6 linked regions of the Homo sapiens genome follow. The protein of the gene in region 4 purifies or fractionates together with the protein of the main gene of each other region. This does not show direct contact. Each region holds a gene or a part of one and is shown on either strand. Other genes may lie near its edges. The genes, in order: CCT6B, RIPK1, USP9X, EGLN3, LIMD1 and PSMD14.

Region 1 (5,123 bases), on a different chromosome or scaffold from region 4:
TACTAATGACTGATATGGTCAGGTTGGCATTTTAAGTATTTGGGGGATGGTTTTAAGGGAGTCTAGACCAGAGGTTTTCATGATAGTCTGGATGAGAGATTGTGGGGTCCTAGCTTGAAGACATTTTTGAAAATGGTTAATAACATAGGCTCTAAAGTCAGGTCTCATGGGTTTAAACAACCTGGTTTCACTTCTTATTATCTTGGTGATCTAAGGCAAATTACATTATCCCTTTAAGCCTCGGTCTTCTCATCTGTGAAATAGGAAAAATAATAATAATAATACCCACTTCATGATGTGGCTAGAGAATTAAATAACTTGTGTAAAACTCTTAGTCATGTCCAGCACAAATACTCAATGTCAACTTTTAAAGATTATTAAGGATTGATGTAAAGAAAAGTAGTAAGGGAATGAATTAGACCAAGTGCTAGCTTTCACAAAGTTTGTGTATTATTTTATGGAACAAAAAATACTATTAAAATATTTTTTCATAATTTTAGACCTATAGAAAAGTTGCAAACATACTACAAAGAATTCCTGTATACTTTTTACCCAGATTCTTCAAGCATTTTCATTTCTCTCATTGCCTGCTTGCCCTGTTCTCTTCCTTAGTATCAGTGTACTTATTCTTTTCTAAACTGTATGTTGCAGACATGATCTAAATATTTCAGTGTATATTTCTTAAAACCAGGGAATTATATAATTGCAGTATAGTTATAAAAACCAGGAAATTAATAATAACATTAACACATTGATACATTACTGTTATCTAATCTGCATTCTATTCAAACTTCACCACTTATATTAATAGTGCTCTTTATAGAAAAAAAAGATCTAAGTTCATGCATTGCACTCAGTTGTCGTGTTCCTTTAGTATCCTTTAAGCTAGACTAGTTCCTGAGCTGCCTTTTATGCTTCATGATATTGCTACTTTTAAGCCATTTATTTTGTAGAAAGTCCCTCAGTGTGGATTTGCCTATTTCCTCAATTAAACTTAGGTTACAGATTGTTGGCCAAAATACCATAGAACTGTTGTGTTCTACTGAATGCATCATGTCAGCAGGCATGTGATGCCTGTCTGTCTCATTATTGTGATGTTAACTTTGATCACTTGGTGAAGTGGTAGACACCACAGTGTTCTATCTGCCACTTTTCCCCAATTCAGTGGTGGTTCTTTTCCTCTGCATTGAAAGGAATCTTTTTATGTGTGCCCATTCAGAAGGGCACCACATAACAACAATGTAGTCATAATTTTTGGAAATAAAAAGGACTTCTGTAATTTTTAATACTAGACTTGAAGCCTTACTGTTAAGGTTGAGATTATTTCAAGTATGAAGCACTAAAATGACTTTTATAAATTATGTACACTTATATTTCATGGCATTAATGTGAGTAACTTTTTTTGAACATAATAATCAGACAGGTTGGTTACTTTTACATTGGGTGACTTATTTTATAATTTATAATTTTATGTTGATGTAACAGGGCCTGCACCCTAGAATAATAGCTGAAGGATTTGAAGCTGCAAAGATAAAAGCACTTGAAGTTTTGGAGGAAGTTAAAGTGACAAAGGAGATGAAAAGAAAAATCCTCTTAGATGTAGCTAGAACATCATTACAAACTAAAGTTCATGCTGAACTGGCTGATGTCTTAACAGAGGTATGTTATTAAACTTTTGCATTCAGAACAAATATAGCCTAATGCATGGTGATATTTTTCTTTTTCTGTAAGATAATCAAGTATTTCATGTGGTTTTTTGGGCATAAAATATGGAAGACAGACAATTATTGTATAGGCCTAACTGTAGATTAGATTTGACTGGTCAGAACAGTATTTGTAATTTTCAGAAGTATCATACTAGGCCTTTTTTTAAACGTGACTTGAAAGGTGGGAGAGGTTTGGCTGCCTGCAGATCATCTCCTGTGGAAGCTCTTGAATAGTATACTGGTCTTTTTAAATCTAGCAGTCCATATTTTATTATGTGAGGTGACACACAAGATAGTTGTTTTAGCAGTGTACCTTGTAGATAAGGTTACCAATATAATGAAATGTGATATGATATATTAATATATTAATATTCACATATTGGAAATGTATGTTTGTTTAGTTTATTTCTTTTATTAATTTATTTGAGACAGAGTCTTACTCTGTCACTCAGGCTGGAGTGCAGTGTCATGATCTCAGCTCACTGCAACCCCCGTCTCCCAGGTTCAAACGATTCTCCTACATCAGCCTCCCGAGTAGCTGGGATTACAGGCGCGTGCCACCACGCCTGGCTAATTTCTGTATTTTTAGTAGAGATGGGGTCTCACTATGTTACCAAAGCTTGTCTTGAACTCCTGACCTCAAATGATACACCCACCTCGGGCTTCCAAAGTGCTGGGATTACAGGCATGAAGTCACCACATCTGGCCAGTGTTTTGTTTATTTCTAAAGGTAGAATATATGTTATATAGGCTGGGCATGGTGGCTCATGCTTGTAATCCCAGCACTTTAGGAGGCCGAGGTGGGGAGACGACCTGAGGTCAGGAGTTTGAGACCAGCCTGGCCAACATGGTGAAATCCTGTCTGTACTCAAAATACAAAAATTAGCTGGGCATGTTAGCAGGCACCTGTAATCCCAGCTACTTGGGAGGCTAAGGCAGGAGAATCACTCTGGGAGGGAGGGGGAGGTTGCAGTGAGCTGACATCATGCCATTGCACTCTAGCCTGGGTGACAGAGTGAAACTTTGTCTCAAAAAAATATATATATATATATATATATATTTTATATAAAGACAAGATTGGCTGGATATTTTGGGAAGGCTTTTATCAGGTGGCAATGATTTGATATCATTATTGTTTTTCAGCTTTGTAATTTCTGAAACTTGAATATATTTGTTTACCAGGAAGAATGATAAATTCTTAGGAAACAAATTCACAAGACATTGACATACAAAGCAGAATACTACCTTAATAATTTACTTTGAGAACTACAAATGCCAAATGTACTGGAATACTTGAGTTGTTTCTGATCGATTCTCCTTACCGTTAAAAAAAAACAACTTGGGAAATCAGATTAAGATCAGACAATTTCTTGATGAGCAGAGTCAGAAGAAAGGCTCTGCTGTGTTTTCTGCTGTTAGAGTACTTGAATGGCCCCAAATCTTCATGCTGCTAGGGCACCCATTCTGTTTTAGAGTTACAGAAACAGTGATATTCTCACTATCCAATGGCCTTTGTCCTATTTCTTATTTGCCTCTAAAATAAAATATTATGTCACCTCAGGCAAAGTTTTCTAAGATACAGTTTTTTCTGCTTTATGTATATTTTAGGGTAGTTATAACTTAGCCCTTAATTTCTGCAGTTATTTATTATTTTTATATCATTTTCTGAGCTAAGCAATAAGACGTGTTGTGCTATGCTTCTTAAATTGTATATCCCTGGTCATATGTGACAGAATAAATGAGACGTAGCTTTCTGGAGTGTCAATTTTACTTTACAATTTTGGGGGAAAACATTATTTTTACATTGAGATAAACATATTATGGGATGACATGGAAACTTTTCACGATAAAACATGAGACTTTAACGTTTCCTGTTATTACAGCCAGCAAATTGGAGCTATTACCTTAGATTACCTTTCCTTCTTTTCCATTAAGGTGTCCTTTGGTGGAAAAGTTTGGATAGTCTTGGTATGATAGAAAGAGTAGTCGCTGGGCAGTTAGGGAGCCCTGAATTCTAGTCCCGGCCCTGTTACTAGCTGTTAGATCTTATTTAAAAACTGTGACTTCTTAAGGTCTTATCTCAGTTGCCTTATCTGTAAAATAAAAGGTTTGGACCTAATGATCTCTGAAGTTTCTTTAGACTCTAAAGTGTCTGTTGGCATTGGCTATTGTTAGCATCCATAGTAAAGTGGCACATATTGGTCTTGCCCTAGGTTTTGAATCCTGAAGGCTTTTATCTCCTTAGTCTGGTGATAGATTGTTTGGGCCCTTGGTTTATTTTAGTAGTCCAAATAACTTAACTGTTCTCATTCATTTCTCTTTCAGGTTGTGGTGGATTCTGTTTTGGCTGTTAGAAGACCAGGTTACCCTATTGATCTCTTCATGGTAGAAATAATGGAGATGAAGCATAAATTAGGAACAGATACAAAGTAAATTACATAAGCTTTGACAACATATGGGTTCTAGAATTTTTTAAAGATATTCTTTTATTAAATTCATTACTTACTTTTATTCAACATAAATATATTCATTCACCATATATTAAGTCACTGCTCTAGGTAATGGGAATGAGAGTAAACAGAACAGAATTTCTTTCCCCAAGAAGTTTATGTTTCTAATTGAAATAGAAAAAAAATCATGTGTGTGATTTTATAGTGGACAGGGAAGACTACTCTGATAAGAACCTGGAGAGCTAAGAGGTCTCTGAAGAAACAAGGGAGCTAGCCATGTGCACATCTGGAATAAGAGGGTTCTAAGCAGAAGGAATGACCTCTGAAAGGGTCCTGAGGCAGAAGTGTGACTAGGTTGTTACAGTGTGCCTGGAGCACAGGGAGAGGAGGTGAGGCAAAAGGGACCAGATTATGGAGTACCATGTTGATTTTGGATTTACTCTTTTAAAACTTTGTATTATAGAAAACTGTGAACATATATAGAGAGAACAGAATAGGGAATTTCCACATAACTGTTAGCTATCTTTATCAATTTCTAACATATGAAGCATACCCTTCCCTCTTTCCCCCTCCCACCTAGGATTATTTTGAAGCAAATCCAGACATCATATACCACCTGTAAATATCATATAATCCATAAAACATAAACCCCCTGCTTTTACCTAATATATCCACAAAACATTATAACACCTTAAAAATGAATAACTCATTAATACTATCACATTTCCAGTTTATAGTCTAATTTGTCTAACAGTTGTCTCAGATTTTTTTCAGTTTTGTTTGGATTAAGATCTACGCACAGTCTGTATAGTGCACTTAGGTGATATCTCTTTTAGTCTCTGTTAATTTGTTAATTTGTAGGTTCTTTCTTCCTCTCATTGTTTTTCACCTTGATAATTATTTTGGAAAAGTCTGATTATTTGTCTTGAAGAGTTTTTGTGGGAAGATTTTTGATTACTCATGCAAT
Region 2 (5,123 bases), on a different chromosome or scaffold from region 4:
AGCCCAGCCTGCAGAGTAAACTCCAAGACGAAGCCAACTACCATCTTTATGGCAGCCGCATGGACAGGCAGACGAAACAGCAGCCCAGACAGAATGTGGCTTACAACAGAGAGGAGGAAAGGAGACGCAGGGTCTCCCATGACCCTTTTGCACAGCAAAGACCTTACGAGAATTTTCAGAATACAGAGGGAAAAGGCACTGCTTATTCCAGTGCAGCCAGTCATGGTAATGCAGTGCACCAGCCCTCAGGGCTCACCAGCCAACCTCAAGTACTGTATCAGAACAATGGATTATATAGCTCACATGGCTTTGGAACAAGACCACTGGATCCAGGAACAGCAGGTCCCAGAGTTTGGTACAGGCCAATTCCAAGTCATATGCCTAGTCTGCATAATATCCCAGTGCCTGAGACCAACTATCTAGGAAATACACCCACCATGCCATTCAGCTCCTTGCCACCAACAGGTAAATGGGTCTTCGATAGTCACAAGCTTGTCTTTTTTTATTTTTCAGAAAATACAGCAACCAAGCAGCTCTATTATAGATTGTGGGTTATAATGGGGACAGAGGGCATCATCAGCTGCCAGATGCAAATTGCCCCTGTGGAATGGACCCTGCCAAACCACTTGGTCTGGGAGTATTTCATCTGGGGCTAGGATTCATCACAGATGCCCGCAAGCATCGGGTTACAGGTCCTTGTGACTGGCAGGCATCTTTGACTCTAACCTGGAGTGCATAGTAGTCCTATTTCACCCAATCTCTGATAAATGGGAAGTTATCTGCTTATTTGCTTTTACCTTGCTTGCTACTTTTTGAAGGTAAGAAATCAGTCTTGGATATTTTTGTTTCTGACCTTATATAGCTCAAAGACTACCATTAGTGATGAAAAATTTTCTTTTAACTCCCATATCTCTATCAGGTGAAGTAAAAGGTAGGTGATAGTAGTTACTGGCAGTCTAGAATGGAAGTGAGTTAATGTAATATCCAGCATTTTTATCAAATAATACTCACCAACATCACCTTAACTACCTGAACAGCATCTACCAATGATACCCACAGGTGTCCTGGAGATCTTGAAATCATCTCAGGTAGAGGAAGCTTTCAGAACCACAGAGCTTAGTTACATTTTCTTTCAAAAGGCCAAATTCTCCAAAAACGTCCTATGCAAACATCCTCGATTTCTTCCATAGGTTTTATGATAAGATCTGTAGAATGCAAAATATTGGATTAGACATTAAGCAGTATCCAAGTCATGTATAATCCTATGAGCAGAATGTCCTTTTGTTTCCTTCATGTTGGGGATAAAATTTTTTATTAGTATTGCCATATCATTTTATTCATTCATGATTAAGTCAATAAAAATTTCAGCTGGGGCCATGGTTGGCCAGGTGTGGTGGCTTATGCCTGTAATCTCAGCACTTTGGGAGGCTGAGGTGAGTGGATCACTTGAGGCCAGGAGTTCGAGACCAGCCTGGCTAACATGGTAAAACCCTGTCTCTACTAAATAATACAAAAATTAGCCAGGCGTGGTGGCGCATGCCTTTAGCCCCAGCTACTAGGGAGGCTGAGGCAGGAGAATCACTTGAACCCTGGAGACAGACGTTGCAGTGAGCTGAGATCATGCCACTGCACTCCAGCCTGGGCAACAGAGTGAGATTGTGTCTCGAAAAAAAAAAAAAAATTCCACTGGCTGGGCACAGTGGCTCACGCCTGTAATTCCAGCACTTTGGGAGGCCGAGGTGGGAAGATCACGAGGTCAGGAGATTGAGACCATCCTGGCTAACACGGTGAAACCCCGTCTCTACTAAAAATACAAAAAAAAAAAAAAAAAAGCTGGGCATAGTGGCGTGCGCCTGTAATCCCAGCTACTTGGGAGGGTGAGGCAGGAGAATCACTTGAACCCGGGAGGCAGAGGTTGCAGTAAGCCGAGATTGCACCACTGCACTCCAGCCTGGGTGACAGAGCGAGACTGTCGCAAAAAAAAAAAAAAAAAAAAAAAAATTCCAAAACTCTTCCCACTTTGTGACGTGCAGTTCTCCAGGCACTGGAGCTATAACTGAACAAACAGCCTGAGTCCCTTCCCTCACACAGTTTAAATCCTAGTGGACAGAAGGCAGACCCTAAACCAATATTTAATGTGTCATTTTTTATCTTTTTTCTACATGAGCAACCCAAATACACCCGTTTAGTGCCAGAAATCTCTTTGTGTTTTCACCTCGTTCTGGTTCCTGGTTCTGCCAGTGACAGATGTACAGGGATGCAGCTTCTTCAGGGTTCTGAGATGCTTTCAGTGGGAAAGGGGCGCTTGGATCTACAATAGATAATAGAATTTTCTGTGTTTCTGCTCCCAAAGATGATCCTGCCAGGTACTAAGCTAGTAAATGAACACGCTGAGTTTCTCCTTGCAAATTTAAATAAGTCTTCTGCTTGCTTTTATCATCAAAAAGTCCTAACTCTATACCAAAATATGAGTTTTCTAATTTGCCATACCATAGAAGAAGGGTGTGTATGCAGTAAGTACAAAAGGAAAATAAATGTCTTCCTTTCAGTGAAAGAGCTCTTAGACCCACTGCTTTTTATTCACTGTGCTGCTTGAAGTGAGGTTAGAAAAGGAAAGCTCACTGGGCTAAGAGTCAGGAGACCCAGGTCTAGTCCTGCTTGTGCCGGTCACTATATGGGTGACTTTGGGAAAGTCATTTGCCTCTCCAGAGTTCATTCTCCTCAATTATAAATGAAAATGTTACAACTGAAAATTTATATATTATCAGCTCTAGTATGTTTCTAGTATTGCATTCGTTTCTCCACTTCGTAACTTTCATGGTTTTTCCAGTGGTCAGATTTGGGCAGAAAGCACTGATTCAAGAACACAGATTTCCAAGTAGAGAGGTGCAGGGTAAATAAACCTCCATGTAAGCCCGCGGTGAGCGCAGACTGTGAGTGACGAACACGGTGTCAGTGTAAGCTGGAGGTGGTGGGCCAGGAGGATTAAACAGGGTAAGGCAGCTTACCACTGTGCCTGGCGATGCGCAGAGTAAGTGCTCAGTAAACGGTAGCTGCTGTTATTAGCACTGTTATTATCATTGTCAGCAAAGAACACCTAGACAGCCTTGAGCACTGGAAGGCACCTCAGAGACTGTCACAGGGGTTCCTTGCTAGGATTCCAAGGACCCCAGTTTCAGCAGCTTCACGAACACCCTGAATTGCACACAGATGGCGTGTGTGTGCACATCCTATATTTCTTACACCTTTCAGTAGAGAGGGTCCCTAGTTTCCTTGGCTTCCTCAGAGAAAATGTAACAAATGAGCACAGTGCCTGGTCCAGAGGGTGGCCTACCTTAGGGCCAGGTGTGCTGACGGAGGTACCTTGAGCTGATACTCATTTCCCTCCCTCCTCAGAACTGTCTTCTCAACCACCTTCTCTCTCCTACAAAGATATGCCAAGTGCTCTTTAGGGACAGTACCAACACTTGACAAATTCAGCTCAGCATGAATGTCATTGAGCCCATGCCCCGTACCAAGGCCCAGGCTAGCGAGTGTAAGGAGTACAAAAACAAGTGGGTGTGGTCGCTGCCCTTGGGACTCACATTCTAGTGGAGAAGTCAAACAGACCCAGCTCAGATACAGAGCGGCGCAGGGCAGAGTGCTGAGTCTAGGATTACAGTGCAGGCTCATGGAAGGAGGTGGAATTTGTGCTGGGCCTATGTCAGAAACTCACAAGCAGGGAGAAGCACGTGGGGAGGTCAGCAGTCCAGGCAGAGGCAGGAGCATCATGTCAGCAGATCGGTGGGAAATCTGGTGGGACTGGAGTCTCTGGAGTGGAGACAGGGAGGAAACAGTGAAAGGAAGATCAGAGACAAGAGGGTAGGGCAGAGCTGTGGCTAGCTTCTGAATACTGAACCTGAGAGGTTTGAGTTTATCAGGTAAAGGAGGAGGACCCTTCACAGATGCTGTTCAGAGTCGTGGGATCCCGCTGGGAAGTGTGGCTGAGCTTTGCTGTGTTGTTCATCCACTTCTGTTTTCTGACTTGGTGTTAGCCACATTTTTTTATGGTAAAATTCAAAAACATAAAATTTACCATTTCAACCATTTTTACAGTGGCATTATCTAACATTCACAGTGTTATGCAACCATCACCACCATCTATCTATATAACTGTTTTAATCTTGCAAAACTAAAACTCTGTATCCATTAAACACCAACTCCCCAGCTCCCCTCCCAGCCCCGGACAACCACCATTCTACTCTCTGTTTCTGTGACTCTGACCAGTCTAGGTACCTCATGTGAGTGGAACCATGCAGCATTTTTCTTTGTGGCTGGCTTCATTCACTTAGGAAATGTCCTCAAGCTTCATGCATGTTGTAGCATGTGATGTGATTCCCTTCCTTTTCAAGGCTGACTATTCCATTGTGTAGCTAGACCACAGTTGGGTTATCCACTCATCTGCTCATGGGTGCCTGGCTTACTTCCACCTTTTAGCTATTGTGAATAATGCTGCAGTGAACACGTGGGTAGAAATATTTCTTCAACACCCTGTTTTAGTTCTTTTGGGTATATACTCAGAAACGGAATTGCTGGATCATATGGTAATTCTATCTTTAATTTTTTTGAAGAATCACGATTTTTTTTTTTTTTTTTTTTTGAGACAGACTCTCACTCTATCACCAGGCTGGAGTGCAGTGGCACGATCTTGGCTCACTCTGCAAGCTCCGCCTCCTGGGTTCAAGTGATTCTCCTGCCTCAGCCTCCTGAGTAGCTGGGATTACAGGCACCCACCACCACGCCTGGCTAATTTTTGTATTTTTAGTAGAGAAGGGGTTTCACCATGTTGGCCAGGCTGGTCTTGAACTCCTGACCTCAGGTGATCACCTGCATCAGCCTCCCAAAGTGCTGGGATTACAGGTGTGAGCCACCGCACCTGGCCCACTATACTCTTTATAGGAGCAGCTGCACCATTTCACATTCCCACCAGCAGTGCACAAGGGCTTCATTTTTTCCACATCTTTGTCAATATGTGTTATTTCTTTTTTTTTTTTTAATCATAGGCATCCTAATGGGTATGAGGTGGTTTAGCCAGATTTGAAAGAAGAAAAGTTTAAAGGGTGGCATAGGATAATTAACTTAAT
Region 3 (5,123 bases), on a different chromosome or scaffold from region 4:
TAAACCAGTTAATCACATCTTAGCTCTTGTTTGATTAGAGCAAGTGATAATGGCAAAGACATACGTGCTAGATTAAATGTGGGAATTACACTTTTGTGTAATGAGATTAGTAAGATACTGTTAAATGAATCACTGGCCCAAACGTGAAAATAATTTTCTCATAATGAGCTTTTAGTTCATTCAGTAAACAATGTTCAAATATTTATAGAGTGTCTACCATGTGCCCAGCACTGCTTGGCATCAGGTAATAAGGCAAGTGAAGATAGTATTAATAAAAATGGCATTTGAGAGCAGTTGATGCTAATGGGGAGAAAATATGATATGGCAGAAATAATGATTTAGCACTTCATTGTTACTTGAAAAAACTGAAGGTAAAAGCAATTTATATGTAGTGTTTCAGATGAAACAGCAAGAGGGCCTGAACATGGTTGATTTGTCTGAAATGATTAAGCTTTGCAAAATTGTTGAAGTAATCTGTTTTGTTTGGAAATCATGAATGCATTTGATGGAGGAAAAAAATCTTACTTTGACTTTAAACATACTGTTAAGTAAAATACATAGTGTATATTAGAATCTTTAAATTCTCAGTGTCCAGGTTATGTTTTCTAATTGAGGTAAAATTTACATAACAAAACTCACCATTTCAAAGTATACAATTCAGTGACTTTTAGTACATTCACAATGTTGTATAGCCATTACCACTATCTGATTCCAGAACTTTTTTTTTTTTGAGAGGGAGTCTCACTCTGTCACCCAGGCTGGAGTGCAGTGGCGCGATCTCGGCTCACTGCAAGCTCCGCCTCCCGGGTTTACGCCATTCTCCTGTCTCAGCCTCCCGAGTAGCTGGGACTACAGGTGCCCGCCACCATGCCTGGCTAATTATTTGTATTTTTAGTAGAGACGGGGTTTCACCGTGTTAGTCAGGATGGTCTCGATCTCCTGACCTCGTGATCCGCCCACCTCGGCCTCCCGAAGTGCTGGGATTACAGATGTGAGCCACCGTGCCCATCCCAGAACATTTTTTTTTATTACCCCAAAAGGAAACCCCTACCCAATTAAGCAGTCACTCACCATTCCTTCTAACCCTGGCAACCACTAATCTGTTCTCTGTCTCTGTGGATTTGCCTCTTCCAGACATTTGGTAAAAACGAAATCATGCAATTTGTGTGTCTGACTTCTTTCACTTAGCTTAATGTTTTCAGAGTCCATCCATGTTATAGCATGTATCATTACTTTATAGCTGAATAATATTTTGTTTTATGGATATATATACACCACATTTTATTTACTGGCACATAATCTTTTTAACACAAAAGAAACAAGGCATGTTTGTGCCCCTACAATCATGTTTTAAGTTAGTTAGTTCAGGGAAAGACAGGACTAGTTGGCTTTGTATTATTACTCTGTTGTAGTTTGGGAGAAACTGAAATGAAATCCTGTGTTATTGGCAAATCAGCCAAATTGTACTATTGCCTGTCAAAATGCTTTGCCTGCCATGTATTCTCATTATTAGAATTCAAATACTGTACCTCCAAATTATGTCACTGAATCCTAACTTGCCTTCAGAGATGCAGTTTTATAAAAGGTATTGATGTGTAGCAAATTACCCTCAACTACAGCAGTCATAAACTTAGTTATAACTTTTTTAAAGTTTGCATTACTCTCGAGTGTCCTGAATTCACTTCAGGTAATGTGTTTAAATTACATATATGGCAGAATTATTTTGGACTGGTAATAAGTTAGTAAGAGCACAGACTCTGGAGTCACACTGCTCCGCAGCTATATGACCTCGGCAAGCTGTGTAACTCTGTGCCAATTTTCTCACCTGTTAAAAGTTTTAATAATAAGGCCAGGCGCAGTGGCTCATGCCTGTAATCCCAGCACTTTGGGAGGCCGAGGCAGGCGGATCACGAGGTCAGGAGATTGAGACCATCCTGGCTAACACGGTGAAACCCCGTCTCTACTAAAAATACAAAAAATTAGCTGGGCGTGGTGGCACGTGCCTGTAGTTGGGCTGAGGCAGGAGAGAGGCGTGAACCTGGGAGGCAGGACTTGAAGTAAGCCGAGATGGCGCCACTGCACTCCAGCCCAGGCCGTCTCAAAAAAAATAAATAAATAAAAAATAAAGGTTTAATAATAGTACCTATTGTCTAATGTTAGATTAAATGACTAAAAGACATTATTGAGTGGCACATAGTAGGCACTCAGTATATATTAGCTATTAGATTTTAGATGTTTTTATTTTATATCTGGTTCTCTTTCAGAATTCATAATGCACTGAAAGGAATTCCAGATGACCGAGATGGGCTGTTTGACACAATCCAGCGCTCTAAGAATCACTATCAAAAAAGAGCATACCAGTGTATAAAATGTATGGTAGCTCTATTTAGTAACTGTCCTGTTGCTTACCAAATCCTGCAGGTGAGGATTTTTTTCTTATAATTTTGTAGAAATCTTAATCAGAATTAAGGATTCTGTTTTAAAAGAAGAGAATCATGAGAACTTGGGGTTGTCATTTTAAGTTAACTTTGAAGTATTCCAAATCCTCTTATCTATATGGTTTTATTTTCTTTTGCAGGGCAATGGAGATCTTAAAAGAAAGTGGACCTGGGCAGTGGAATGGCTTGGAGATGAACTTGAAAGAAGACCATATACTGGCAATCCTCAGTACACTTACAACAATTGGTCTCCCCCAGTGCAAAGCAATGAAACGTCCAATGGTTATTTCTTGGAGAGATCACATAGTGCTAGGATGACACTTGCAAAAGCTTGTGAACTCTGTCCAGAGGAGGTAAAAAAAGCCACCAGTGTGCAGCAGATAGAAATGGAAGAGAGCAAAGTAATTCTTTATTTTATAGGCCAGTGTTTATGTATTAATGATATTATTAAAAGATTATGTTGAAGTTTTGGGTTTTGAAAAATGTTTATTCGGCTGGGCATGGTGGCTCACGCCTGTAATCCCAACACTTTGGGAGGCCGAGGCAGGCGGATCACCTGAGGTCAGGAGTTCAAGACCAGCCTGGCCAACAAGGTGAAATCCCATCTCCACTAAAAATAGAAAAATTAGTCGGGCGTGGTGGCAGGCGCCTGTAATCTCAGCTACTTGGGAGGCTGAGGCTGGAGAATGACTTGAACCCAGGAGGCACAGATTGCAGTGAGCGGAGATCGTGCCAGTGGGCTCCAGCTTGGGTGACAAGAGTGAAACTCCATCTCAAAAAAAGAAAAGAAAAGAATGTTTATTCTATGTCATTTTAAGCTAATGAAGGGAGCTTTCTTTTGGAGAAATTTCTGTGAAATTGCCTGAAATGTAGTAGTTCTGAGAGAATGCAAATCAGGTTTTTTGTTTTGTTTTTTTTTTTTTTGTTTTTTCCCCAAGTTCTTTATCTGCAGTAAAAGAAAAGTTGCTAATGGGTCAGTTTTGTAGATTTTTAAAATTTATTTCAAATAGAAAAAGTTAAAAGTAAACTTGAGTTTGCCTACGTAATTTTTTATCTTGAAATATTCAAAATTAGGAGCCAGATGACCAAGATGCTCCAGATGAACATGAGTCGCCTCCACCTGAAGATGCCCCATTGTACCCCCATTCACCTGGATCTCAGTATCAACAGGTAAACAGGAGTCAGTTTATGCTTTTATCCCCTAGAACTGGGTTTTATGCTTAATTTTAGAGGATGGCTCAATTGTTTGTTGTGACTACAAAGTAAGAAGTAGGATTATCTAGACTAGCTTTGGGAGCATGATCCAGAAGAGGGATGGTTTGGAGTGGGGGTCATGGTGTAACATGTTTGAACTTAACCACTGTAGGGTTTTCCTTGTCAAGAAGGTGTCCTTCTTGTGCTAGTAGTTAATAAAACTGTATGAGAATTTATATCAACATAAAATGATCATTGTTTAGTGCAAAGGATTGTGGTGACATTTCCGGTGAGGTAAAATCTTCACCTGGATTCCAAAAACATTATTAAGATATGGCAATGAAGTAAGAAGTCCTTGGTTACTTAGCCACAGGTTTCAGTGATGGTAAAAATCACTGGAAAAAAAAGGATTTGGGTAGATTTCCATAGGTGATTAAAGTAAATAAACTAGTAAATAGCAAAAGAAATGAGATGAAGAAACATTCTAAATGATAACTTTTTCTTTCTGAAACCAAAATGTGACTAAATCAGCTCTTGTGAGGCAGTGGTACTCAAACTTGCACAGGCGTGAGTCTCCCTGGAAGGGTTGCTCCAGCAGAGAGCTAGATGCTACCCTAAAGTGTCTTATTTCATAGGTCTTCAAGGGGCTGGAAAATGTACATTTCTAGCAAGTTCCCAAGTGATGCTGCTGGTGGTCCAGGAACCATACTTGGAGAAACATTTCAGGCATTCTTTCTTACATTTCACTGTGTACATAGAAGCAAACTGAATAGTTAGGAAGTACACATTCAGCGTACTTATTTTCATCTATAGAAAGTAAAGCCTGGCCAGGCGCGGTAGCTCATGCCTGTAATCCCAACACTTTGGAAGGCTGAGGCAGGTGGATCACCTGAGGTCAGGAGTTTGAGACCAGCCTGACCAACATGGAGAAGCCCTGTCTCTACTAAAAATACAAAATTAGCCGGGTATGGTGGTGGCGCATGCCTGTAATCCCAGCTACTCAGGAGGCTGAGGCAAGAGAATCTCTTGAACCCAGGAGGCAGAGGTGGTGGTGAGTCGAGATAGCACCATTGCACTCCAGCCTGGGCAACAAGAGCGAAACTCCCATCTCAAAAAAAAAAAAAAAAAAGTTAAGCCTAAAATCTTGGCTTGGCTGATGGAGCATGTACAGAAAAATGAGAGCACTGTAGGGTTCAGACATTTTAAAAGGTTAAGGAACCAAATCCACAAGGAAGGTTAACTTCCTTTGACCCTGAGAAAGCTCTTATGTTAATCATGCCTGGTTACTTTATCATCTTGAACATTGTTCTGTTTTTAATCAGCATTATTGTGAGTTCAGGGTTACTGCTCCTATATATCTTACATCATGGTTAGTCAATCGGATTTAGCATGTGGAAGAGTCAATAGATGCTCATAGATCATTCTCTGAAAATTTTTTACCAAGAGCAACAGTGGGTTAATCCTTTATTTGCCAGACTTGAGTCTAAATAA
Region 4 (4,971 bases):
GCCCCAAACCCAGTTATATATTAACTGCCAAATCGGAATGTCTTCTAGATGAGCAGGGAACGAATTCTACCACTGAAGTCAGCTTTTGTGTTTTATGGGGTATGTAACTAAACCCTGTTGTTTGTGGCAGAAGTCTTTGGTTATTCCCCAATCTCATGATGACTGGCCTTACAGGGAAAACATTAGCAAATGTTGATGAGAAGTCCCTTGAAAAAAACTCAAGTGCTATAGAAATTGTTAGCTACGGAAGTAGCTAACAATCATTACAAAATGAAACTTTAAAAAAAAACCAAGCATGAAATGGCTCCCATTACAGTCTATCCAATGAATGGGATAAAGCAAATTAGTGGGGATGCAGTAGAAAGCTCTGGGGCATTATTATTATTCAATTGCAATTTTGCCTCAATGTCCAAAACTAAAGAAAGCAAGCCAAGAGTTTTAAACATACTGTGATTTACATAAGTCGTTTTTCAAAGCTTCACTCAAATGTCATCTCTTCTCTATGTTCTCGCCACCAACTTGGGTCTCCCAGTCTTTAGCAGAATGACTCCCTTCTAGTCCTTTCTGTAGAGGCTATGTTTACCTGTTGCATTATTGCAAAATCACCTGTCTCCCCTACTTGGAGCCTGAGATCGCAGAGGAAGATCTGATCACAGGGTCATTTGAATTCCTAATGCCCAAGATAATTTCTGGCACATACCTGGAATTCCTTATGCATTTTATTACATTGAAATAGAATTAAAACCAGAGAAGTTAATTTTAAATTAAAATCAGCGTAGACAGGCCGGGCATGGTGGCTCACACCTGCAATCCCAGCACTTTGGGAGGCCGAGGTGGGCAGGTCAAGAGATCGAGACCATCCTGGCCAACATGGTGAAACCCCATCTCTACTAAAAATTTAAAAATTAGCTGGGTGTGGTAGCGTGCACCTGTAGTCCCAGCTACTTGGGAAGCTGAGGCAGGAGAATCGCTTGAACCTGGGAAGTGGAGGTTGCAGTGAGCCGAGATCACGCCTCTGCCTGGCAACAGAGCAAGACTCCATCTCAAAAAATAAATAAATAAATAAATAAATAAATAAATAAATAAATCAGGGTAGACTTCTAATAATAGAGAAAACTTTAAAACTTTTAATGTGAGATTTATAGGACATTTGTGTTTCTAGTAGTACCATTAAATCTCTTTCCTTATATCTGCTTATCTTTCACAGATATGCTATGACTGTCTGGTACTTTGATGCTGAAGAAAGGGCAGAAGCCAAAAAGAAATTCAGGAATTTAACTAGTATGTGTTTGATAATTTTCTGTGACTTTTGATCAAGTTAATCCTTGACTTTTATTCAATTTTATGTAGTTTTAAACATGTTCTGTTCAATCTGTTACGGCTTAGCTTTATATATAATGACATCTTGATGGGTTTTATCCTGAAACCTTGGCCTTAGGGCTCTTAGAAAAATCAGAAACAATGCAAGGGGCTTCCCCTGAGAATGCCCACTGAATGTATGATGGTTTATGATAGATGGGAAATAGTTAACTTTTTCCTATTAATGTTAACCAGTCAAATGTAACATTAAATTTTGCCCATGATTTTTGGCATATTGCAAAGGAAATATAATGGAACCCAGTTATGATGGCAAAATTTATTATATTGGGTGAGACTGTGACTCTCAGTATAACAGCAGGGCTCATGTAATATAAACTGAATATAACAGCACTACTCCTATCCCTTCCAACCAGTATTAGAAGGCAGCATTTCCCAAAATACGTTGCATTAAAACACAAATCCTGCCAATTTGGTAAATTCCTGGTCCCAAAAATGTGGGAAATGTTGCATGCTGTATGCCTGTCTTAAAAAGAGTCACATTGCTCACTAGCATATTAAATTAAGGCGCTAAGAGATCCTGCAGTAAGGAAACATATATAATATTGCCTAGCCCATAACCCATTTGGACTGTATACCTCTCAAATACCAAAGTGGTCTCCAAATTGCACCCAGGAAATCTCAGTTTGTTTTCTCTTCCAGATGGCCTACACTGCTTAACTCTGATATGTGAGTGAGGCTACACTTCATACAACTTATGCTCAGCATTAGCCCAAGAGGTGCCAATGCTGGATGTAAACCCAAAGTTCCTCCACAGTCTGTGAGGCATATGGGAAAGATCCCATTGCAAAGTCAAGAGAGAATCCTTTGGCAGAGCTCTATTAGGAGGCTTATATAAGATGGGAAGTGTTTACTGGAGGCTTTTTGGTGACATTTGTGACATAAAACTCATCAGAGCTGACTCCATACCCTCTTTATTCTCCTTTCTGTCCCCAACCCAGGGAAAACTGAATCTGCCCTCACTGAAGACTGACCGTGCTCTGAAATCTGCTGGCCTTGTTCATTTTAGTAACGGTTCCTGAATTCTCTTAAATTCTTTGAGATCCAAAGATGGCCTCTTCAGTGACAACAATCTCCCTGCTACTTCTTGCATCCTTCACATCCCTGTCTTGTGTGTGGTACTTCATGTTTTCTTGCCAAGACTGTGTTGATCTTCAGATACTCTCTTTGCCAGATGAAGTTACTTGCTAACTCCAGAAATTCCTGCAGACATCCTACTCGGCCAGCGGTTTACCTGATAGATTCGGTAATACTATCAAGAGAAGAGCCTAGGAGCACAGCGAGGGAATGAACCTTACTTGCACTTTATGTATACTTCCTGATTTGAAAGGAGGAGGTTTGAAAAGAAAAAAATGGAGGTGGTAGATGCCACAGAGAGGCATCACGGAAGCCTTAACAGCAGGAAACAGAGAAATTTGTGTCATCTGAACAATTTCCAGATGTTCTTAATCCAGGGCTGTTGGGGTTTCTGGAGAATTATCACAACCTAATGACATTAATACCTCTAGAAAGGGCTGCTGTCATAGTGAACAATTTATAAGTGTCCCATGGGGCAGACACTCCTTTTTTCCCAGTCCTGCAACCTGGATTTTCTGCCTCAGCCCCATTTTGCTGAAAATAATGACTTTCTGAATAAAGATGGCAACACAATTTTTTCTCCATTTTCAGTTCTTACCTGGGAACCTAATTCCCCAGAAGCTAAAAAACTAGACATTAGTTGTTTTGGTTGCTTTGTTGGAATGGAATTTAAATTTAAATGAAAGGAAAAATATATCCCTGGTAGTTTTGTGTTAACCACTGATAACTGTGGAAAGAGCTAGGTCTACTGATATACAATAAACATGTGTGCATCTTGAACAATTTGAGAGGGGAGGTGGAGTTGGAAATGTGGGTGTTCCTGTTTTTTTTTTTTTTTTTTTTTTAGTTTTCCTTTTTAATGAGCTCACCCTTTAACACAAAAAAAGCAAGGTGATGTATTTTAAAAAAGGAAGTGGAAATAAAAAAATCTCAAAGCTATTTGAGTTCTCGTCTGTCCCTAGCAGTCTTTCTTCAGCTCACTTGGCTCTCTAGATCCACTGTGGTTGGCAGTATGACCAGAATCATGGAATTTGCTAGAACTGTGGAAGCTTCTACTCCTGCAGTAAGCACAGATCGCACTGCCTCAATAACTTGGTATTGAGCACGTATTTTGCAAAAGCTACTTTTCCTAGTTTTCAGTATTACTTTCATGTTTTAAAAATCCCTTTAATTTCTTGCTTGAAAATCCCATGAACATTAAAGAGCCAGAAATATTTTCCTTTGTTATGTACGGATATATATATATATAGTCTTCCAAGATAGAAGTTTACTTTTTCCTCTTCTGGTTTTGGAAAATTTCCAGATAAGACATGTCACCATTAATTCTCAACGACTGCTCTATTTTGTTGTACGGTAATAGTTATCACCTTCTAAATTACTATGTAATTTATTCACTTATTATGTTTATTGTCTTGTATCCTTTCTCTGGAGTGTAAGCACAATGAAGACAGGAATTTTGTATATTTTTAACCAATGCAACATACTCTCAGCACCTAAAATAGTGCCGGGAACATAGTAAGGGCTCAGTAAATACTTGTTGAATAAACTCAGTCTCCTACATTAGCATTCTAATGGTTTGATTAATATATTCCATCTTTGGCAGGAAGGGCTTGCTAGAATTTTTACACACATCTTTTTAACATTGTTGACTTACACATTTACGCTAAGAGTTTTAGAACGCTTTGGTCATAGTGTTGCTTCGTATTTGTATACCCATGAATAGGTCATTCACTGACCACTATGAATCTGAAAATTGAACAAATTATATTTTGCCCTTCCATATCCTAGAAACAACATTAGTAAAATAACATTAGTCTCAGATAGGACAGAGTGAATTCCCCTTTCGAACAATCTTGAAAAATTTCAATAGGAAAGAAAGGACGAAGTTTATTAGGAATTTTGTATTCTGTAAAATTGTAGTTATATATTTTTCATGATTTCTAATGTCATAAGAATGATAGTGACAATATTCTGAAGGAGGATCATATAGTTCCAAAAGCATGTCTTGTATTTTTCATTTTAGTCAATATGCCAAAAGATCTGACCTCCAAGGCTTTGTTTATTCCTTCCAGACAAAGGTCCTATAAGCTAACAAACCACTTTTTTTATGTGCACTGATTTTTTTTTTTTTTTTTTTTTAATGACTCAATTTGAGTCCTGGAAAATTAAGCTGGAAAATACAACTTTAATGCTAGGAGTCTGTTTTTTGCTCCTCTCTTTGACAGCCCATTTAGGGGAGGAGTTAGCCCTGCTAAAGAAACATTATTTGGCAAATAATCTGATCAATTTCATTTATATTCCCGGCAATGAAATATTAAGAGCCTACCTCACCATTATGTCACTTATATAGTCCAGAGTTCTTGGTAGGAGATTAAATTTTGAACCAAAGATCCAATTTCATGGAAATAAAAAGTCTTACCTAAGTGCATTAGATAGATCCTTAGTAGAGTAGTTAATACCATTAAATGCTGGACTGTCAGAATCATGAATTATCCATTCAGACATGATTTTGTTTTT
Region 5 (5,123 bases), on a different chromosome or scaffold from region 4:
TTCTGTATCACCAGTGGGCTCAGCCACTACTTTGTACTGGATACTTTCTGCAGACAGTCTTAACACTGATTATTCTAAGAATGGAAGGTACATGAGTGATTCATGTTTCTTCTTTAATTGTATGTATTTTCCAGAATATCTAAAGTAAAAATGATTACCACTTACAATTGCAAATGTAACCATAACTAAAAATAAAAATTGTTTTTTAATTCCGTAAAGGTCTGGAAAGGGGCTGGGATGCCAGGCCGCTTGGCCTCTGCCTTTCCAGGCTCTCTGCCACTGCCAACAATAATGCTGCCCAGTCCCTGTTACATGGTTAGCTGAAACCCAGGCATCTAGTTATACCTAATGCCACTGTCACAGGACTTTGGGCCGGGAAGGACCCTGAGAGGTCATCTTGGCTCAATAGAGCTAGAGGGACTTGCCCAACATCACACCCTGAGCTGCTGGTGGTATCAGGCCCAGAAGACCTGGTTTCCTGACTCCCAAATATGTGTCTTTCTTGCACAGTTCTGTCTCCTATGTGACAGTCACAAATCAACAGATGTAAAGAAACATAACTTTTTAAGACCCCTGGCAAGAATGATCATGTCAAAATAACCGTTTCATGTTCTGGACTGTTAATGGAAAGAGCAGGAGGGCTGGATGGAAGAAACAAGACATTCTTTCCTGGTCACAAAAGAACAGAGCAGAAACATACCATACCAAGGAGGGAGGACTCCAGAGAGAAAGCATGACGGGACAGGCAGACGCTGTGGGAATCCATGTCGGGACGCGCCAGGGCTACAGCTCCCAGCAGATCAGCCTGCTTGGAAGGGATTGGTGGCATTGGCAGCACAGCACTGGCCAGAAGAACATCCGTTGGGAGCCACCAAGGCAAGGACCTCAACAGGCTCAGAGAAAACAAGGCTGGGATGACGGGGAAGAAGGAGCAAGGTGAGGCACAGGAGGGGTGGGCCAGAGCGAGGGTCTCCAAGGTCACAGTGAGAGGAGTGTGAATCCATCGCACTGGCTGTCCTTCCCCACAGCACTCAACCCAGTGCTGAGAACACAGTGTGACCTGACACGTATGCATCATTGACCTGCTGATTGAGCAAAAAGATGAACCTATCTAAATGAAGTTTGAGAGCTTCCTCACCTCTGCCCCTGGAAAACTCTGAAGAGAAGTGCTGTGGAGAGAGATGGCATGCAGGGACGGGGCTGAGGCACATGATGTAGTCACATCCCTTCAGAGAACACAGAGGACCGAGACGGTATCCAGTCCTTGACCACTGACCACACAGGAGTCACCGCTGTTACAGGGCGAGCTTCCAGCCCAGGAGGACATACAGTGGAGGTGGCCCTGGGCAGACGGCACCAACTCCTTGCTGTCTCCAGCCCAAGCTTCACCCAGGTCAGCCACACGATCTCCATTCATCCATCCCCAAACATGCCATAATGTGTTTTTACATTTTCCAAGTTTTTAAAAGTTACATCAAATCCCATGTTTGTTTAAAAGCCCATTTTTGCTATCAGAAATCAGACAGCTGATCCTTGGACACTTGGTGGTGACTGTACAGGGGCACAAGGAGCGTCCTGGGTGATGGTCATGTTCTGCCTTGATCTGGGTGTTGGCTACACAGATGGGTTCACTTTGTGAACATCTATGATATGTGTACATCGTACATCAATAAAAGGTTAAGAATACATGTCTTCCTGACTTAGGAAGATTGCCTGGTCCATTAAAAAAATGCATGGGCTGGGCACAGTGGCTCACGACTGTAATCCCAGCACTTTGGGAGGCTGAGGTGGGAGATCACTTGAAGCTGGGAGTTCAAAACCAGCCTAAGCAATATGGTGAGACTCTGCCTCAATTTTTTAAAAGAATGCACAGAGACTGCCCGATGTCTAAAGGATTGGGCATCCCCATATCCCTGGGTGTGCATCTGCAGGGCCAGAGAGATTGGAGTCTTGAATGTCACTGACAAATGTTACCAGCAGAGTCAGAAATTTACTTCCATGTCAATGGAAACCTGGATTCGGCTGGTTCAAATTATGGCACATCTCCAAAAGGCATTCTGGTGGCAGTCCCCACGTCATCATATCTAGTCATGCCAGTCACTCAGACAGAGGCACACAGCTGTTGAGCTTCTGTCACTTTCTTCCACTTCAGCAGTTGGTTTGGGTTTAATGAAATGCCTGATATGGGAGGAGGCTGGTTAGCCAGTGCCTCTGGGGAACACAGACAGACCTCTGTTCTGGAATTCTGGAGGGGCTGCTTTATTACAAGACTAGCCCATGTTGTTTCCTTTTATGTGAAAAATGCTCGATTTTTTAATCTAGGCTGGAATTAAGCACCATATTTCAAGCATCTATTGCTAATAAAGTCTGATAAACAGTAATTAAAAAGTCATGAAGGGCCAGGTGCAGTGGCTCACGCCTGTAATCCCAGCACTTTGGGAGGCCAAGGCGGGCAGATCACCTGAGGTCAGGAGCTCAAGACCAGCCTGGCCAACATGGCGAAACCCTGTCTCTACTGAAAATACAAAAATTAGCCGGGCATGGTGGTGCGCGCCTGTAATCCCAGCTATCCAGGAGGCTGAGGCAGGAGAATCGCTTGAACCCGGGGAGGCGGTGGCCGCAGTGAGCCAAGATCGCACCACTGCACTCCAGCCTGGGTGACGGAGTGAGCCTCCGTCTCAATTTAAAAAAAAAAAAAAAAAGTCATGAAAACGAGGAGCAGCTCAGTGTGCAACAGACTGTCAGATGGAAGGGCATCTGTAGTCATGTAGACATGCAGATAGGGCATCTGTAGTCATGCAAATAGGACATGTAGGTACATAGATAGGACATCCACATGTTCCTTGCTTGGACTGCTCGTTTAACCCTGTGCATTGCCAGGAAAGTAAAATCAAGTAAGACAGGCTCCCTGGCCCCGGTCAGGGCAGGGCCATTCTCAGGAGGAGTCACACCTGCTTTCAGGATCCCAGGCTAAGGGGGGTCTGTCACTGCAGTTTTCTGGGTTAGGATACTGCTGAAAGGACATCCACCAAAGACAGAAAAACCAAACACAATGCCAACCCTTCCTTTCTCCATGCTGGTGAGGAGCAGGCCTGTCCATCCACTTCCTGGGTACAGGAGACCCTGGAACCTGCTTATTCTTGCCTTTCCCACCCCTCTGGTCCTAACAGCGAGCAGAATGTGGCTCTCTCCTGGTTAGCTTTAGCCGTGACAGATCCCCAGGCCCACCCACAGCAGGGAGGGTGAGCACAGGGGCTTCAGGTCCAGGGGACACAAAAGTCCACAGCCCAGGCCGGGCGCAGTGGCTCACGCCTATAATCCCAGCACTTTGGGAGGCCAAGGAGGGTGGATCACAAGGTCAGGAGATCGAGACCATCCTGGCTAACACAGTGAAACCCCATCTCTACTAAAAACATATATATAAAAAATTAGCTGGGCGTGGTGGCGGGCGCCTGCAGTCCCAGCTACCCGGGAGGCTGAGGCAGGAGAATGGCTTGAACCTGGGAGGCGGAGCTTGCAGTGAGCCAAGATCGCGCCACTGCACTCCATCCTGGGCGACAGAGCGAGACTCTGTCTCAAAAAAAAAAAAAAAAAGTCCACAGCCTGAAATATGGGGGAAGAAGGCATGGAAAACGCAAGGAGCCCACAAAAGCTCCCTACAGTACGTGGGTGGAGAATGAATCTGGAGGGGCAATAGAAGGCATCCACTCAGACGTGAGAGACCACCTAGTCCCACCATGCAAGTGGTCAGAGCAGAAGCAAAATCCCGACTGGTATGGGAGCACCACTACTTGTACCCATATGGTCTTGAGCAAGTCACTTAACCTCTCTGGCCTCGGTTTCTCAACTGTAAACAGAGAATGGTGCCTACATCAAAACTAAGTGTGCAGGTTAAATGCCAACAAGGCCCACAAAGCACTGAACTCCAGTGCCCGGCACACCACTGGCACTTGACACACGGTAGCTACTACTAGAACCATAATGCCCAAGTCACCCGCTCCTACCTGCCCCCAGGAAGGGGGCACTGTGGGGATGCTGCAAAGGCCCTTCGATGAAGGCGAGGACAGGGGAGGGCACAGCTGCTGGGGTGCGGCAGGCAGGTTGCCCTCCTGTCAGCCCCTGAAGAGACTATCCCAGCTGCACAGAGCTGCCTCGCCCAAAGTCACCATCTTCCTGGGCAGCCCACAGCCAACAGCTGATCCATGAGGGAGTGTGAAGGCCAGGCCATGTCAGGCCAACTAGGATGACCCTAAAGGACTTTTCCAGCTCCCAGGCTCCCTGCGGGGTCAGGTCCCAGCAGCTCAGCTCTCCTCTACCCACTCCTGATTCCTTCTCCATCTTCCACAGGTGGGGACCCCAAAAGCACCTTTTAATAAGCCCTTGTATGGTCAACTCTGTCTCAGTCAGCTTCCCAGGAAACCCAGCCTATGACAAGTGGTTTATTTGTGGGGTTTTTTGTTTTTGTTTTTGTTTTGAGACAGGGTCTCCCTCTGTCACCCAGGCTGGAGTGCAGTGGCATGATCATATCTCACTGCAGCCTCAGCCTCCTGGGCTCAAGCAATCTTCCCACCTCAGCCTCCCAAGTAGCTGGGACTACAGGTGTGCACCACCATGCCTGGCTAATTTTTGTGTTTTTTGTAGAGATGGGGTCTCACTATGTTGCCCAGGCTGGTCTTAAACTCCTGGGCTCAAGCAATTCTCCTGCCTCAGTCTCTTGAGTCGCTGGGATCACAGGTGTGAGCCACCACACCCGGCTTGTGTCCTTTTTCCTTAGAAAGGGAGAAGAGGACCAGTGTGAGGAAGATAGGTGGATCACATGGAGGAGACGGTGGGGCACAACTAACAAAGGCACGGTGCCCTCTGCACCCCACCTCTGCAGTGTCAGCAGTGGTGCTAAAACAGAAGCCACACTGCACTAGGTGGTGTAGGCCAGGAGCAACGCCTAGAAGACCAAAAACCCAACAACATGGACAGAGAGACACAAAGAGGCAACGGGGACAGGGGGTGGGGAGGATGGCTGGAGGAGGAAGTAGGCCCAGCAGAGTAGGGAAAGAGACACGCCTCTGTAGGATCCTATTTTACTAAACCCACAAAGACCAGCCATGGAAAGTGCCAGGAGAGTT
Region 6 (5,123 bases), on a different chromosome or scaffold from region 4:
GGTAGTGGTTAGGATTTTGGAAGTATTTTCACGTCAGCTATACCTGTCTCAACTGGTTTGTTCACACCTGGGGCAATTGTGTTAAATTTGTTGTTGTATAGGGGGAGGGGAACAGCTTCATTAGGTGACATGCAGAGGATGTTGTTCACAGCTCTTTCACCCAGGGATTAGAAGTCTTCTTTCCCCTTCTCCTCCACTGTTGTGATGAATTTGCAGAGGAATCCCATAGCCTTAATCTATTAATACTCAAAGAATTTGCTGTTTGTGTTGATGCTTTAGTTAATTGTGCTAGTCCAACAGCATTTCACATATACACACTGTGGTAACAAATGTGGCTAATTGGTACATTATAGCCATGTTGTAGCCAAGGTAGATTGGCATTGCCGAAAGACTTAAACTTTATGTCCATTAGACCCTTGGCTTAGTATTAAGTTTTACCTGTTTTCTACAGGTTTGATATTTGCAAATGTGTTTTGATTATGTCATAGCCAAATAAAAGGATACTTGACATGTTTTGCAAAACTATTTTAAAAATATCAAGTTTATACCACATGTAACTTGAATTTTAAACTCATAAACTCTGTGTTTGTTTTAATAATAATTGATGTATTTGTTTCTAGGGGCCACCTACAGATGCTCCTGCAGTGGACACAGCAGAACAAGTCTATATCTCTTCCCTGGCACTGTTAAAAGTAGGTAATGAATGTAGTTACTTGCTTTAGAGAACTCTGTTGCTTTCACTGTATCTTTTACTTTGGAATATTTGTCACCTTAATCCTCTCAGACATAAATAAGCTATTGTTTTAGGTACATTTATAAAAGGAGTTTTTATTTTCACTGGAACAAAATTTGGTTTTTGTTTTATAAAGAAGAACCAGAGACCTCAACGAAATTTGCTTTGTGTCCACATCTCTTCCTTTCTACAGATGTTAAAACATGGCCGTGCTGGAGTTCCAATGGAAGTTATGGGTTTGATGCTTGGAGAATTTGTTGATGATTATACCGTCAGAGTGATTGATGTGTTTGCTATGCCACAGTCAGGAACAGTGAGTACTTTTATGGTTGCCTGCTGCAAGTAAATGTGTTTCTTTTCATTTTTCTTTTCCTATGCAAACTAACTCTCATCATATTACATTTTCTCTTTCCAGTAGGAAAAATTAATCATAAGTTTGATAGAAATTTTTAGATTGTATTGAATTAAATCATTAATCTTTAAAACGCAGCATAACTTCTTATAGGTCTACAAACTGAATGATGCTAATGCTAAATTTCTTTTCTCAGTCCTTCGGCTTAAACTGGTGTAAAATACTGGATTTAAAAGTTACTTACCCTATAATAGCAGAGTGTTAGTTTGATTTTGAACCAAGTGTTCAAAAGATTTGAGATTCTCTTAATTTAGATTTTCAACTCACATATACTGGTTCTTATGTCTTGTTCCCATTGTTTTGAAATATGTCATTTAAAAAATGTTCTATATATGGTGATGAATGACTTTTTAAGCTTTTCTTATTTAAAATGTTAAGTTAAAGCAAAACAAAACAATAGCAAACCTGAATATTTTTTTCCCAGGCATGGTATTTTGTTTATATGCACCGTACTCCATACAAATTACCTGTATAGAATACATTATTCTTTCTAGAGATGTTTGTTTTGTTTTGCCTTTTTGTTTGATGCATTAGACTTGTGTTGATAGATGTGCATTTTGACTGAAAGAAAATAGCCAAAAAACAATAACCATTCCATCTACCTTCCAAAAAAAGCACATATATCCTTCTCACCTGTTTGCTTAGAAAAATATGCATGTATTTTTCCAAGCGATATTTCTTCTTTGCTAGGCAATATTTCTCTTACTGAGCCTTGTAAAAGAAGGATTAAAGAAATTGTTGTTATAAAGCTGTTAGTTCTATTCGAAGTTCTGTAAGTTTACTTTGATAAGGTAGATGCTGGAGAACAAATTACAATTTTAAGTACTGTAATATATATAGTATGTATATTAAAAATAAGCATTTAAAATAGAATATTTGCTACAGAATGCAATATATTTAAAATAATGTAAAGTTTTCTCTAAATAGATGAATTTGTTGAGGTAAACTAATTTGGATCTACTGATTTTATCCATCTTGATATCCATTATATTTATTTTATACATTTGGAAATAGAGAAACACTCTACATGTTAACCAAAGGTTTAGATTTAAATCTTAGACTATTTATTACTTGTATCTGTCTTTTTATATTAGGCTACATGAAACACATAAAACTAACTTATATATGTTATGGGTACTTATGTAGATACCCATTATAATACATTGTTCTTAGGCTTTAATATCATTACTTCCATGTAAATGCTTGTTTGACAATATAAAATAAAAGATTTTGATCCCTATATTCACTCTAATTCTATTTTCTAGTGTCATAGAATTAGAAAGTTTTTCTTCTGACCCCAGAGTCAGTAAACTTTTTCTATAAAGACATATGTCTCTGTTGCATATTCTTCTTCTTTTTTAAGACAGTCCTTTTAAAGTATATATATGAAAAGAAAGAAAAAAACCGAAAACATTCTTAGCCTATAAGCAGCAGATTGCATACCCCTGTTCTTGAGGATGTACTCTCTGTTGGAATTCAATATGCATACTGTTTGTTTTGGTGGGAAGGAAGTGCTTATGTTAACTAGTTTCTTTAAGTACATTAGATTTAGATTCCTGAGGTTAGAAGAAAGCCTTGGGAGCTATAAAGACAGTACTCTATCGCCAGAGAGATGATCTGAACCTTTTAATTCTTCCTGTTCAAATATCTTATTTTGGTTGAACTAGCAAAATAATGCTGTATGTAAGAGACTTGAGGCTGTTTCATTATGATAGCTGAATATTTGTAGAACTTTGGATGAGGCTCATTTTAGTCATCAGTTATGATAGGATGGCATTAGGAAGTATGCTTGCCTAAATAGGTCTAACCAATAGTTATGGTTGGTTCAATTATTTCGTATTTCTGGTAAACATATACACAGCAATGGCCATATACTCTTAAAGAATCCTGAAAGTGGGCTTAACTCGATCGCCAACAGCAGTTTGGTAGTTGGCAATTTTAGAAGCTTGATTGGTATGAGGTTTATAATTGAATGACTTGAGTAGGTATCAAATGTAGGTATCAAAACCTATAAAATGATTTTGGCAACCCCAAATAATATACATAGGGAAGCTTTTTTTCCAAATTTACAAAAATTAATAATTTTTCTTTCTTTCTAAATCAGGGTGTCAGTGTGGAGGCAGTTGATCCAGTGTTCCAAGCTAAAATGTTGGATATGTTGAAGCAGACAGGAAGGTAAGCATTTTAAATGATCAGTTAAAGAAATAATGGGAAATATTTATAGAAACATACCTCAAAGTTATAGATGTTTATCAATGTCATTTCTAGAAAAAGTGGTTATGTAATTGACATAAAAGTATCTGTAAATATCAGTGCCATGCACCACCTGTCTAGTATATCTTCCCTTTAGAACCAGAGAAATTTGCCCATCAGAGAACTGCCTCATGTTAAAATTCTTGACTGTCACATAGTAAGCTTGGGCTGTAGCTTCCCTCTGTTTAGCATATGGAGTTACTGTCTAGTCACTTATAATTGAAAGAGCTTGTATGTTCCATGTATTTGAGAGTTGCAACTGAATGAGATTATGAATATTTAATTATGTTTGTAGGCATAGTTTTAAAGACAGAGAAAGTATAATCCAAATATTCTAAAGTTTTTTCCTCAGACCAAATCTCTCAATAGTTGTCATTCTCTTGCTCAAATTCTTCTGCTGTGGAAACAACTTCAAAATTAATGTTAGCAAAAGGCTCAGCAGCTGAGCAGAACAGTGCAAATTGGTTTTTGACTGAGTTCCTAGTTCTACTGCTGGTTTAATTGATATTTAATCCTTTCACAACAGTGGATCCTGGTGTCCATTGTTAAAAATGTACTCTGTGCCTGGAAAATCCAACTCCCAGAGCTAAGGAGTTAAAGAGTAGATATTTACTTGAATGCTGAAAGGGTAAAAACTGGCTCTGAGAAACTGTGGTAACAAGGTGAAAAACTGAAAGCCTTATCTACCACTGCTAATGTGCATCTCTTAATGATAGCACTCCTTTGTCACACATATTCATTTCCATGTTTTCTGGATAATATGGTGTACAATTTCAGGGTTTCTAATGGTGCTTTTTCACACCTGTGTGTTTTTCATCTCTTCTTAATTTATACCCCGTTAGTGTGTTGTTTCTTTTCATATCATAAATGTATTACTTGTTCTGTTCTGAGCATCTGAATGCCCTCTTTGTTTCAGGCCGGAGATGGTTGTTGGTTGGTATCACAGTCACCCTGGCTTTGGTTGTTGGCTTTCTGGTGTGGATATCAACACTCAGCAGAGCTTTGAAGCCTTGTCGGAGAGAGCTGTGGCAGTGGTTGTGGATCCCATTCAGAGTGTAAAAGGAAAGGTAGAGTAGATTCTATCTTTATTGCCATCTACTGCCACATTCTGTTTACAGATACATTAAATAAAAATCAATTTTGTTCAAAGCAGGATTCTTAATTACACAGAAAGCTGCTGTCTGTTTACTTAAAAAACAAAAAAACTGTACAAGTTGATAACTGTGTCTTGGTATTATTAGCAATTTATTTAGAGATTTCTTCTTTAATCACTTATTGTGTAATTTTCCTGAATATTTATCTTTAAATTTTTTGAATTTCATAAAATTAGGAAAGTTAAACCATACTCAAAGCCTGCTATAAACATTTTATTAATATTTAAATAAACATTGCTTTACCTTTATTTTCAAATGATGAATTTGGAATTGGCACAACATTTTAAAAATCTATTTAAAGGGCATTGTTTTGCAGACATTATGCAGGACATATTCTGGAGGTGTGTTTTCCAAATATTTTAGACAATGAAAACTTGCCCAAAGACTTGGTATCAACCATTCACGTTTTTGGAGTGAGGACGCAAATGAATGATTAAATATGCTAAATAATTCTGAAAACAGATTAACTTGCAAAGCATATTGGGTTATAGTTCTTTGTTGAAACCCCTTTTGTTCTTGTTTAGTTCTCTTTCTCTTTTTTTGTTCATTCATTCTTTCTTTTTTTTTTTTA

The links.
Region 1: the proteins of EGLN3 (region 4) and CCT6B purify together in Homo sapiens (affinity purification with mass spectrometry; 2 studies listed by BioGRID and IntAct, with this or other methods). This does not show direct contact.
Region 2: the proteins of EGLN3 (region 4) and RIPK1 purify together in Homo sapiens (affinity purification with western blotting; 2 studies listed by BioGRID, with this or other methods). This does not show direct contact.
Region 3: the proteins of EGLN3 (region 4) and USP9X purify together in Homo sapiens (affinity purification with western blotting; 2 studies listed by BioGRID, with this or other methods). This does not show direct contact.
Region 5: the proteins of EGLN3 (region 4) and LIMD1 purify together in Homo sapiens (affinity purification with western blotting; 2 studies listed by BioGRID and IntAct, with this or other methods). This does not show direct contact.
Region 6: the proteins of EGLN3 (region 4) and PSMD14 purify together in Homo sapiens (affinity purification with mass spectrometry; 2 studies listed by BioGRID). This does not show direct contact.

What each region holds. Positions count from the first base shown.
Region 1 is NC_000017.11:34,950,962-34,956,084, reverse strand, and holds part of CCT6B (T-complex protein 1 subunit zeta-2), read left to right. Parts: intron 1-1,485; coding exon 1,486-1,659; intron 1,660-4,031; coding exon 4,032-4,135; intron 4,136-5,123. UniProt on the Homo sapiens protein: Component of the chaperonin-containing T-complex (TRiC), a molecular chaperone complex that assists the folding of proteins upon ATP hydrolysis.
Region 2 is NC_000006.12:3,105,587-3,110,709, forward strand, and holds part of RIPK1 (receptor-interacting serine/threonine-protein kinase 1), read left to right. Parts: coding exon 1-465; exon of another isoform or gene 466-1,205; intron 1,206-2,215; exon of another isoform or gene 2,216-2,311; intron 2,312-3,715; exon of another isoform or gene 3,716-3,810; intron 3,811-5,123. UniProt on the Homo sapiens protein: Serine-threonine kinase which is a key regulator of TNF-mediated apoptosis, necroptosis and inflammatory pathways.
Region 3 is NC_000023.11:41,226,989-41,232,111, forward strand, and holds part of USP9X (ubiquitin carboxyl-terminal hydrolase 9X), read left to right. Parts: intron 1-2,264; coding exon 2,265-2,421; intron 2,422-2,578; coding exon 2,579-2,791; coding exon of another isoform or gene 2,792-2,839; intron 2,840-3,512; coding exon 3,513-3,608; intron 3,609-5,123.
Region 4 is NC_000014.9:33,923,270-33,928,240, reverse strand, and holds the end of EGLN3 (prolyl hydroxylase EGLN3), read left to right. Parts: intron 1-1,207; coding exon 1,208-1,281; intron 1,282-2,318; coding exon 2,319-2,350; 3' UTR 2,351-4,014; downstream 4,015-4,971. UniProt on the Homo sapiens protein: Prolyl hydroxylase that mediates hydroxylation of proline residues in target proteins, such as PKM, TELO2, ATF4 and HIF1A. Target proteins are preferentially recognized via a LXXLAP motif.
Region 5 is NC_000003.12:45,600,415-45,605,537, reverse strand, and holds part of LIMD1 (LIM domain-containing protein 1), read right to left. Parts: intron 1-5,123. UniProt on the Homo sapiens protein: Adapter or scaffold protein which participates in the assembly of numerous protein complexes and is involved in several cellular processes such as cell fate determination, cytoskeletal organization, repression of gene transcription, cell-cell adhesion, cell differentiation, proliferation and migration.
Region 6 is NC_000002.12:161,366,858-161,371,980, forward strand, and holds part of PSMD14 (26S proteasome non-ATPase regulatory subunit 14), read left to right. Parts: intron 1-620; coding exon 621-692; intron 693-926; coding exon 927-1,046; intron 1,047-3,249; coding exon 3,250-3,320; intron 3,321-4,314; coding exon 4,315-4,465; intron 4,466-5,123. UniProt on the Homo sapiens protein: Component of the 26S proteasome, a multiprotein complex involved in the ATP-dependent degradation of ubiquitinated proteins.